Homo sapiens: one gene and its partners. The protein of the gene in region 1 interacts with the protein of each later gene in a biochemical or structural test. Each region holds a gene or a part of one and is shown on either strand. Other genes may lie near its edges.

Region 1 (3,660 bases):
GTTCATTTATTCACTCCAGATCCCTGGATCCTAGGCCAGTATTGGAAAGTAGCTGGCACATAGATAACTGTTAAATACAATAGTGTAAGTTAGAAAACTTGTACACACTTTTTCAGTGTAAACCCCTCTTTTTACAAATGAGGAGAAAGACTAAGGCGATGCTGCTAATTGGCCAAGCTGAGACCAGACTCCTGGTCTTCAGCCTCCTCCTGTGCTTAGAGAAGATGCTTCTCTAGACCTTTGTTACCCAGCGTCCAAATCATTTTTGCACCCAAACAGGTCTCATGGATGCTGCTTAGCTGGGGAGTAAATCTTCAGATGCCACAGTTGCTTTGCATTTATGCAATAAACGTGTGCAATGCTAAGAAAAAAATTGGTGCAGCTGATGTTCAAGCAGTTGTCACGTGGGAGGGAATTCTCTTCTGCCAAAAAGCCAAAAAAAAAAAAAAGAGAGAGAGAGAGAAGATGCTTCTCTAAGCACCCTCATCACCCTGGATGGCGAGGACAGAAACAAGCATGAGATGGAGAAGACAAAAAAGTCAACACTTTGGCTTATGTGGGTGTCTCATGTCCAAAAAATCACTTTAAAACTATGGTTCTGCTTGATTCTAGAGAGTTCTATTCTTCATAGAGCGAGTGACCACTTCTCCAACTTCCCACCCTCCCCAAACTGGCAACCCGGCCAGGACCTGTAGGCTCTCACTTCCTTTCACCCAAAGCTTGCCAGGGCAGGGCAGGGCAGGTTGAGAGACACAGAATAAAGGAAAAATTAGGGAGGAGAGGGACTGTTCAGGCCAAGGCAGCAGAAGAACAAGAAATCCCAAAGAGACCAGGCTTGAATCAAGGCTGAATCCAGTTCACATCAACTCTGACCCTGCTTGGCTGTATTTCTAGATAACTTTGACATCAGTTAAGCCTTTTTCATTTGGGGTTATGTATTCCTAAAAGAAAAACTACGCTTTTAGGTAAATACCAAGTAAATTACACTTTAATTTTTTTCTTTTGAAAACAAAATTCTTTTGAAATCAGCAGTTTTTGCCAAACTAATACAATGTTACCGCAAAAATTAAAATACAAAAAAGTAACAGATGGATATTAGAATCACCTGAAACCTCACCATGTAGAGATAATTATACTAATAATTTGTTCAATATTCTTCTGGGTATTTTTTAATCTATCTAAACGAACATAGATGTCACACACACACACGTGATTACAATTTTACCTTCATGAGATTATTCTCCACATGTTCTTTTGTAACCTGCTTTGTTCACTGACATTTAACATAATGCTATGGACATTTTTCTCTGTTGATAAATGTGGCTGTCTATCCTAAAGATGATGACTGCCAAGTATTCTATTGTATGTATATATCATACTTTTAAAGAGCCTCTTATTATCGTATAATTAATTTGTCCCCAATTCTTTGTCATTATAAAAATTCCTAAAATATTTTACATTCCCACTAAATGCCGAAAAAGAGCATTTTGGGGACAAAGAAAATATGCATTCCATATTTGAATACATATTGACTAACTGCATTCTATAATAGACCAGCCAAAATTAGACTCCCACTGACAAAGGCATCATGTTTTAAATTTCAACTTGCCCTCTCGTCTTCATGTTAGCTTCATAGGCAATGAATTATGGTTAAAACATATCCTGGGTATGAAGATGGCACATGGGGAATTCAAAAGCACAATAAAGCTGTGGCAGAAAATGTAGATTTCTCCCCACCACCCCTCACCCCAGCCTTTCCTCTTTGAAAACAATGCAAAATTTGAATAGATTTCCAATGAGCATTTATCCTAATGTCAATAATTTAGGATTCCTATCAATTCAAACAAAAAGCATGTCCTTTTGGCTTGGAATACAGGAGACAAAGAATTTGGCTTCCAGGGCTGGGCTCGGTGGCTCACGCCTGTAATTCCAGCAATTTGAGAGGCCGAGGCAGGCGGACCACCCAAGGTCAGGAGTTCAAGAGCAGCCTGACAAACATAGTGAAATTCCATCTCTACTAAAAATACAAAATTAGCCAGGTGTGGTGGTACATGCCTGTAATCCCAGCTACTTGGGAGGCTGAGGCAGAAGAATCGCTTGAGCCTGGGAGGCAGAGGTTGCAGTGAGCCGAGATCTCGCCATTACACTCCCACCCGGCAACAAGAGCAAAACTCCATTGAAAAAAAAAAAAAAAAAAGAATTTGGTGTCCAAAACAACTAACCATGTAAAAAAAACTTGCTCCAAACAACAGCACTTTTGCCAAACTAAAGGCAACACCTGGGCTACCAAGGCAACATCTTTAATCTACAATGTATAGAGTTTTAATTTCTTTTTTCTGAATACTATAGAAATGTATTTTTGAAGACTCAGAGTATCTCCTCTTTCAGGAAGCTTTCCCCTCCCCCCTACCCTCTTTGGCAATTGCATGGACCTCCTTGATGCCCCTCCATGGGATTTACTGTAACGGTGTAACAAAGTTCATGACACTTCCTGTATCTATGCCTGTTTCTGCTCCTGAATGATGAGTAACTTGAGAGTAAGGATGGTGTCTTTTCAGATGACACATAGTAGCCATGCAACAAGTGTCTGTTTACTAAATGAGGGAAAGTACCTAAAGTACTTGAAACAGAGTTGGTGTGTACAATCCTTGTGCGTCCTGAGCTTATCCAAGAGAGTAAGTTATCGTTTGGACATTAAAAAAAAAAAAAAAAAAAAAAAAAATCCCTGTGATGAAGTGTGTCCTTGTGTGACCCTGAGGTTAGGCTTCTCAAGAGTTAACTACAAGCAAGATGGCACTTTTCTCTAAACTATAGGATGTACCAGATTGATGAGTTCATCTATACTCCTTCAGTGTGTTCTTTCTGATTCTCATGAGTAGCCCACGTGTATTTCCCAAATCATTTGAGTAGATGTCTTCCCTGACCTGTCACTGTAACAAAAGCTCCCAAATCCAATTCTCTAAGAACTCAGGTTTAAGATCCATCATATCTAGGAAAGCTGAACATTCCTTACTCCCCATGGAAACTTTGTGGTTACAACGCATAGAAAAGAAAAAGGATTAGAAGAACTGAAGATGGTTTTTCTGTCTCACTACTAAATCTACAAGAACCTCATTTGCTTGACTAAGTAATCCAACATTACAGTAGTAGTGAATATTCCTTCTTATTTTAAGTAGCCAGCACTGACAAATGAAGGCTGTGTTCCAAATTATGGGCTACTGTCTTCTGTGTCTTAAGCTAAGTGCATTTATTCTTTCACTAAGGTTACAGAGCAGCAACTCACAGTACAATTAACATCTCAGTCTTTGTTTCTTCACAACTTCACTATAATTATTCCGCCAACCCTTGCTTAAATGGAAATGAGTCATATCCATCTCCTATTTCTCTAAAAATAAACCCATCTCCTAATTAAGCATAACACTTTCAAGTCCTGTATGAATTGACATAGCTCAACGAATCCTTCTTAGAATATTAAAATGAACTCATGTCATTATAATTTTAAAGAGTATATTGTTTTACCCTTCCTTGAGGAGTAACTCGCTACTATCTCCTGAAAAAGAGAAAGACTAGAAGATGTTTTACTCTGGTATACCATAGCAGTTAAGAAATAAGGAATGCTTCATAGATTATTTTATGCATTTCCTTCTCAGTGGAAACAAA
Region 2 (3,660 bases), on another chromosome or scaffold:
GGGTGTGTGCTGGAATCCCATTTTACAAAACTGAGGTACAGAAGGTTAATACCTTCTCCCAAAATGGAGGGATAGGGCTAGGACTTGGAAGCCCTGCTTCTTTCACTTTATCAGTGTTTGAAGTATCCTGGGATGAACAGTGAGATACTTTCACTAATTTCAAACTTTTTAAACCTTTACATAACCTTATTTTCATTTTCTTTTGTTTGTCTCGGTCACTTCTATATGAAAGTTCTAAACCAATATTTAGTAACTTATTTTTATTGTTTTTGACGGCAAAATCATTTACAGCAATAAAGTTACTTTCTGAGAATTGCTTTACCAACATTTCACAGATTTTGAATGTAGTATTTTTTTGAAGACTATATTTTAAGATTTTTGTCCGTAACATGGTATTCTTAGAATTAACATATTTTTGAAGAATCTTTAGGTGTTAAAATGTTATTATTTTGAGTAAAGATATTATTCATTAAAACATGAACTGGCCACCATACATTTACTTTATATCAAGTAAATTTAATATAGATAAAATTTAACACACAGTTAATATACATATATGAAACTCTTGATCTTCTTGAACAATACTATACATGAAAAGAAACCATTTTTAAATAACCTGGCTAACTGGTTGGAGTGCAGACATAGGGAAGTTGTGCATTAAATCTCCTGTGGGGAAACTGCATGAAAGAAAACTACTCCACGATCAAAGATTGACCCATAATCATACAGCTATCTTATAAGTGCAGCTTATTAAATAAAGAAAATTTAGCAAGATCCATTAATTCTGCTGGAAAAAAAAAATTCAATGCAAAGATCCTATTACCAGTAGATGTAAAGATACACATCCAGCAGAATGTGAAGACACACTTAACACATAACAATCTAAGTAAATGCAGTATTTGTACCTGTTCTTCATTAGACGGACCTCTCTCTTTCGTGCTGCTTCTTCAGCAGGCTGTGTAGGAAGTGCTGGGGAGGATGCCATAACAACTCCAGGGGCAATAGTGCTAGTGGGTGCTGTGCGAATCTGGTATGTTTGTACGTCTCCAGAGGCAGCTGAAAAAAACAGTGAGCATGGTGTAAGACAGAAACATTGCAACTTGATTCAATTATGTGTATCAATCATCAATCTAAGCATGTATTTTGGACTAAAAGGGAAACAAAAAAGAAAAGATGATTCTGGCTAAAGCGTTGAAAGAATCAGCACTCTTCGCGCCACTACTAAGAAATAATTCCCAATGTAATGTATTTATTACAGTAACCTATGTCCGCTGGATCTTACATTTTATTTTTCATTTGAATGCAGTTCTATTCTGTTGTTAACATGCTTACCAACCTTAAGTCTAAAAGGTAAGTGGGGCACAGCTTGGATGATCTTCCTAGATAGAGTATAGTCCTCAGTGTCTTCCTTTGATATTGGTAAATTCATATTAAAAAATTTCAAGTAGACTCTTGCCACGACATAAAAACGACCATGATTTTTCATAAAATAGCAAAATGAAAAAGAAGATAAAGCATTATGGTCAACTATTATAAATTTTGAATTAAAACAAAACTAAAAGTATGAAAAAGTGTATCACTTGATGCCAATTATATTATTTGAAAAACATATTGTTTTAATGTAAATGATAATGGCTAAATAAACTGAAGTTTTATTTTTCTAACTGATTCACCATTTGTAAAAACAAACACAATCACTATTTGTCAAACTGCTTCTAAAAACAGCGTAATAATATGCTCTCCTAATAAGGAACCTAATGTTACTTAAAAAAATTTGAAGGTCTTTATAAAATTATTCATATTAATTATTAATATCAATTAAAATGTATGGTTTGAGTGGAAAAGATTTATATACTAAACATGTTACCATCTTCAAACTGACGTTCAGAATTCAAATTCACTGACATCCTGCTTTACAATTTTTGAGTACCTGCATGTAAAGTGAAAAGGTGTTTTACTCTCATCAATAAGCAAAATAGTATCTTTTTCAAATACTCGTTTAATAACAGAATATATTCTGTAAACATTAGGGCTCTTTAAATAAGTTATGACTCTCTCCAGTTGGTGTTTCAGGATTATTCAATTATCCATGGTGAAAGGATACAACTGTCATTACCTAACACAGGCAAAATGCATTATTATTTATAAAAATATTTTCAGAAACAAATTTATTATTATTTCCTCAATCAGCAAATTTCTAACCTGGCATTAACTATATTCTTGAAATATTCAAACAAATCCAAAGAAAAATGGTTAACTGCTATCCATAAAGATTCCTGAAATAAACAGAAAAAAAAAACTAAAAAAAAAAAAAAAAAAGCCAAAAAAAGCAACTTCTATAATTTGTCGAGAATTTAACAACTACTTTTTCTCTAAAGAGCAGCAGATTTGCATATTGGTATAAGATCCTGTGGAATATAATGTTTTCATTTGAAACAAAAACTGAGTCAAGTGCAGAGGCATCCCAACACTTTGGGAGCCTGAGAAAGGAGGATTGCTTGAGGCCCGGAGTTCAAGACTAGCCTGGGCAACACAGTGAGACCATGTCTCTAGAAAAAAATAATAATAATAATAATAAAAACTGATGATCTCAGAAGATTTAAATTTCTTTTGGGGGGGGGGGGGGAAGCAGAGAAACAGAATCCTGAACTTCTGAAGATTGTTTCCAGAGATTCAGTGCAACTCTTATTTTACAGATGAAAAAACAAAAACAACAACAACAAAAAACAAAACACTTTCCTGAGGCTCAGAGCAGCTGACTTTTACTCAAGGCCTCATAGCAGATCCATGCAGTTAGATACAGAATCCATCTTTTCTAACTCCTGATTTCCTGGTCTTTCCTTCTAACCTATCCTGTTTCTTCTACCCCAAAAGATGTTAAAGGTAGATGCAATATTTTAAAAACTGAAAATAGTTGTTTTTATGCCATGACATTTTGGTCCAATTGGAATAATGGAAGAGTTCATGAAAAATACTATCAATATTGAAGAAATGTTAACTACATTTGAATGGTGGTTTGCAATATGATACTTACTTTTTCTGTGAGTTTATAAAATTTTAGTATTTTGAAGAATTTACCACACCTGTGAATTCTGAATTCCCTTACCTTGAACAACAACTTGGTTGCTGGGCACTAAGATCTGCTGTCCATCAGTGGTCTGTGCATACTGTAGAATGGTAGTACCCGGCTGAGTGGCTGCTGCATTGGTCATGGTTAATGTTTGCAGGCCCTGTACCCCATCGGTACCATTGTTAGCCAGCTGTATTGCTCCTCCCTGGGTAATGGCAACTAAAAGCCAATGGATTTTATTGTTACAAGTTTAATACCATATAAGACTTTTAAAACATTACATCCAATGTAGAATAATTTGTAAAATAATCTAGGAGAAGTTACAGCAAATAACATCACCAAGAAGGGTCTAATATATTCAAGTAACTTGCTCCTCAGGAAACCCATATTCAACTTCTACAATAGAAATGCACTCTATGAACTGCATTCTAATTTATAATAATAATGCCTGTTAACAATTTTTTTAAGTGGAAAAATGTTAAATTCCTTCTGAAGTTATTTGGTTCTGAAGAGGTTCCACTCTGTGATCCTTTCTTTTATTTTAGCATTAACTGCATAATGTATTAATACTTGTCCCACTAGTAAATAAA
Region 3 (2,549 bases), on another chromosome or scaffold:
ACAGTTCTACGATGTGAAGAAAGGAAAAGCTAGTGTAGCTCAAGAAGCTAGACAGTGCCCAACTACAGAAGTAATGAAAAGGACAGACCAGGGAAGGCTCCTGCGTGGGTCAAAGAGGGAAAGAACTGTGCCTAGTCTACAAGACACAGAAATAAAATACAGAATACACTTTTTGTAACAGTGAAACAAGTATCAAAACAGGAAAAATCTGCAATCCATCCAAAAATCATTTGTCCCCTCCTAATCCCTCCATCTTTCTGTACTTAGGAGTTTTCTTGTACATGTAAATGGTGACAAGAGTGGGAGGCTTAATTGCTTCTTCAAGTTGGATCAAAACAGTGCATAGCTCAACTGTTGCATTCTCCGCCACTAGGTTTACAAAGCAAATAACACATTAGTTATTTTCATCAGAGGAAGTCTCTCACTGTTTCCTTTTTTCGTTTTTTTTTGTTTGTTTGTTTTTTGAGACAAAGTCTCGCTCTGTCTGTCGCCCAGGCTGGAGTGCAGTGGCTCGATCTTGGCTCACTAAAAGTTCTGCCTCCTGAGTTCACGCCATTCTCCTGCCTCAGCCCCCCCAGTAGCTGGGACTATAAGCGCCCGCCACCACGCCCGGCTAATTTTTTTGTATTTTTAGTAGAGATGGGGTTTCACCATGTTAGCCAGGATGGTCTCGATCTCCTGACCTCATGATCCGCCCATCTCAGCCTCCCAAAATGCCGGGATTACAGGTGTGAGCCACCGCGCCCAGCCTGTTTGTTTTTTTGAGACGGAGTCTCACTCTGTCGCCCAGGCTGGAGTGCAGTGGTGCGATCTCGGCTCACTGCAAGCTCCGCCTTCCAGGTTCACGCCATTCTCCTGCCTCAGCCTCCTTTTTTTTTTTTTTCCTTTGAGATGGGGGTCTTGCTCTGTTGCCCAGGCTGGACTGCAGCAGTGCAATCTCAGCTCACTGCAACCTTTGCCTCCTGGGTTCAAGCAATTTTCCTGTCTCAGCCTCCTGAGTATCTGGGATTACAGGCATGCGCCACCATGTCCGGCTAATGTTTCTATTTTTAGTAGAGATGGGGTTTCGTCATGTTGGCCAGTCTGGTCTCGAACTCCTGACCTCAGGTGATCTGCCTGCCTTGGCTTCCCTAAGTGCTGGAATTACAGGCGTGAGCAATTGCGCCCGGCCTCTCTGTTATAAATTAGTGTTCATAAATTAATATTTTTAAATACATGCACAGATTTAAAAAATTCATTCAGTACAGGGGTAATAGGATAGAAAAGCAAATCTCACTCTCATCCAGGAACCTCCTAATCACCCAAATTCCCTTCCCCATTGCTACCAGTTGATTCATATTCATTACAACTCTAGAAAAAAGGCTGGCAAAAAAACTACCCCAGGGGCAAATCTGGCTTACTTGTCTTTGGAAAGAAAAATTGTACTGGAACACAGCCATGCCTATTTGTTTACATATTGCCTATGGGAGTTTTCACACTTACCATGGCAGAGATAAGTAGTTTCTACAGAGACCACATGGCCCACAAAGCCTAACATATTTATTGTCTCTTTACAGAAAATGTTTGCAACCCCTGTTCTACAGGAATTTTATCTCTAGAATCTAGAGATATGATATGCAAATTTAAAATATATAGATATAGCAACACCTTTAAAAACATAAGTGGAGGCCGGGCACGGTGGCTCACACCTGTAATCCCAGCACTTTGGGAGGACTAGGTGGGCGGATCACAAGGTCAGGAGATCGAGACCATCCTGGCTAACACAATGAAACTCAGTCTCTACTAAAAATACAAAAAATTAGCCAGATGTGGTGGTGGGCGCCTGTAGTCCCAGCTACTAGAGAGGCTGAGGCAGGAGAATGGCGTGAACCCGGGAGGCGGAGCTTGCAGTGAGCCAAGATTGCACCACTACACTCCAGCCTGGATGACAGAGAGATACTCTGTCTCAAAAATTAATAATAATATTACAAAAATTAGCTGGGCATGGCGGCACGCACCTGTAGTCCTAGCTACCCGGGAGGCTGAGGCAGGAGAATCGCTTGAACCGGAAGGCAGAGGTTGCAGTGAGCCAAGATCGCGCCACTGCACTCCAGCCTGGTGACTGACCGAGACTCCGTCTCAAAAAAAAAAAAAAAAAAAAAAAACCACACACACACAAGTGGAAGCATAGTTCAGTGTCTGACTTTTTTTTAAACAATATATTTTAAGAGATTGTTCCATATCAGTACATACAGATCCTTTTCTTTTCAAAGTTGAGTAATATTCTACTATATTACAACTCATAACTTATATATTTCACTACACTGTTCCTGCATTGGTTTTAGTTTTAATTTTTTTGGTAAGAATGATACCTTATTTGGGCCAGTCGCAGTGGCTCATGCCTGTAATCCCAGCACTTTGGGAGACTGAAGCAGGCGGATCACGAAGTCAAGAGATCGAGCCATCCTGCATCCTGGCCAACATGGTGAAACCCCATCTCTACTAAAAATAAAAAATTAGCTGGGCGTGGCAGCACGCTTGTAATCCCAGCCACTCGGGAGACTGAGGCA

What was found.
Region 2: the proteins of ETS1 (region 1) and CREB1 form a complex in vitro, tested with the Homo sapiens proteins (one study listed by BioGRID).
Region 3: the proteins of ETS1 (region 1) and ARID4B form a complex in vitro, tested with the Homo sapiens proteins (one study listed by BioGRID).

The regions. Positions count from the first base shown.
Region 1 is NC_000011.10:128,577,481-128,581,140, forward strand, and holds part of ETS1 (protein C-ets-1), read right to left. Parts: intron 1-3,660. UniProt on the Homo sapiens protein: Transcription factor. Directly controls the expression of cytokine and chemokine genes in a wide variety of different cellular contexts. May control the differentiation, survival and proliferation of lymphoid cells.
Region 2 is NC_000002.12:207,574,901-207,578,560, reverse strand, and holds part of CREB1 (cyclic AMP-responsive element-binding protein 1), read right to left. Parts: intron 3,290-3,660; coding exon 3,107-3,289; intron 1,931-3,106; coding exon of another isoform or gene 1,914-1,930; exon of another isoform or gene 1,908-1,913; coding exon of another isoform or gene 1,868-1,907; exon of another isoform or gene 1,636-1,867; intron 1,452-1,635; exon of another isoform or gene 1,337-1,451; intron 1,057-1,336; coding exon 906-1,056; intron 1-905.
Region 3 is NC_000001.11:235,168,791-235,171,339, forward strand, and holds part of ARID4B (AT-rich interactive domain-containing protein 4B), read right to left. Parts: intron 1-2,549. UniProt on the Homo sapiens protein: Acts as a transcriptional repressor. May function in the assembly and/or enzymatic activity of the Sin3A corepressor complex or in mediating interactions between the complex and other regulatory complexes.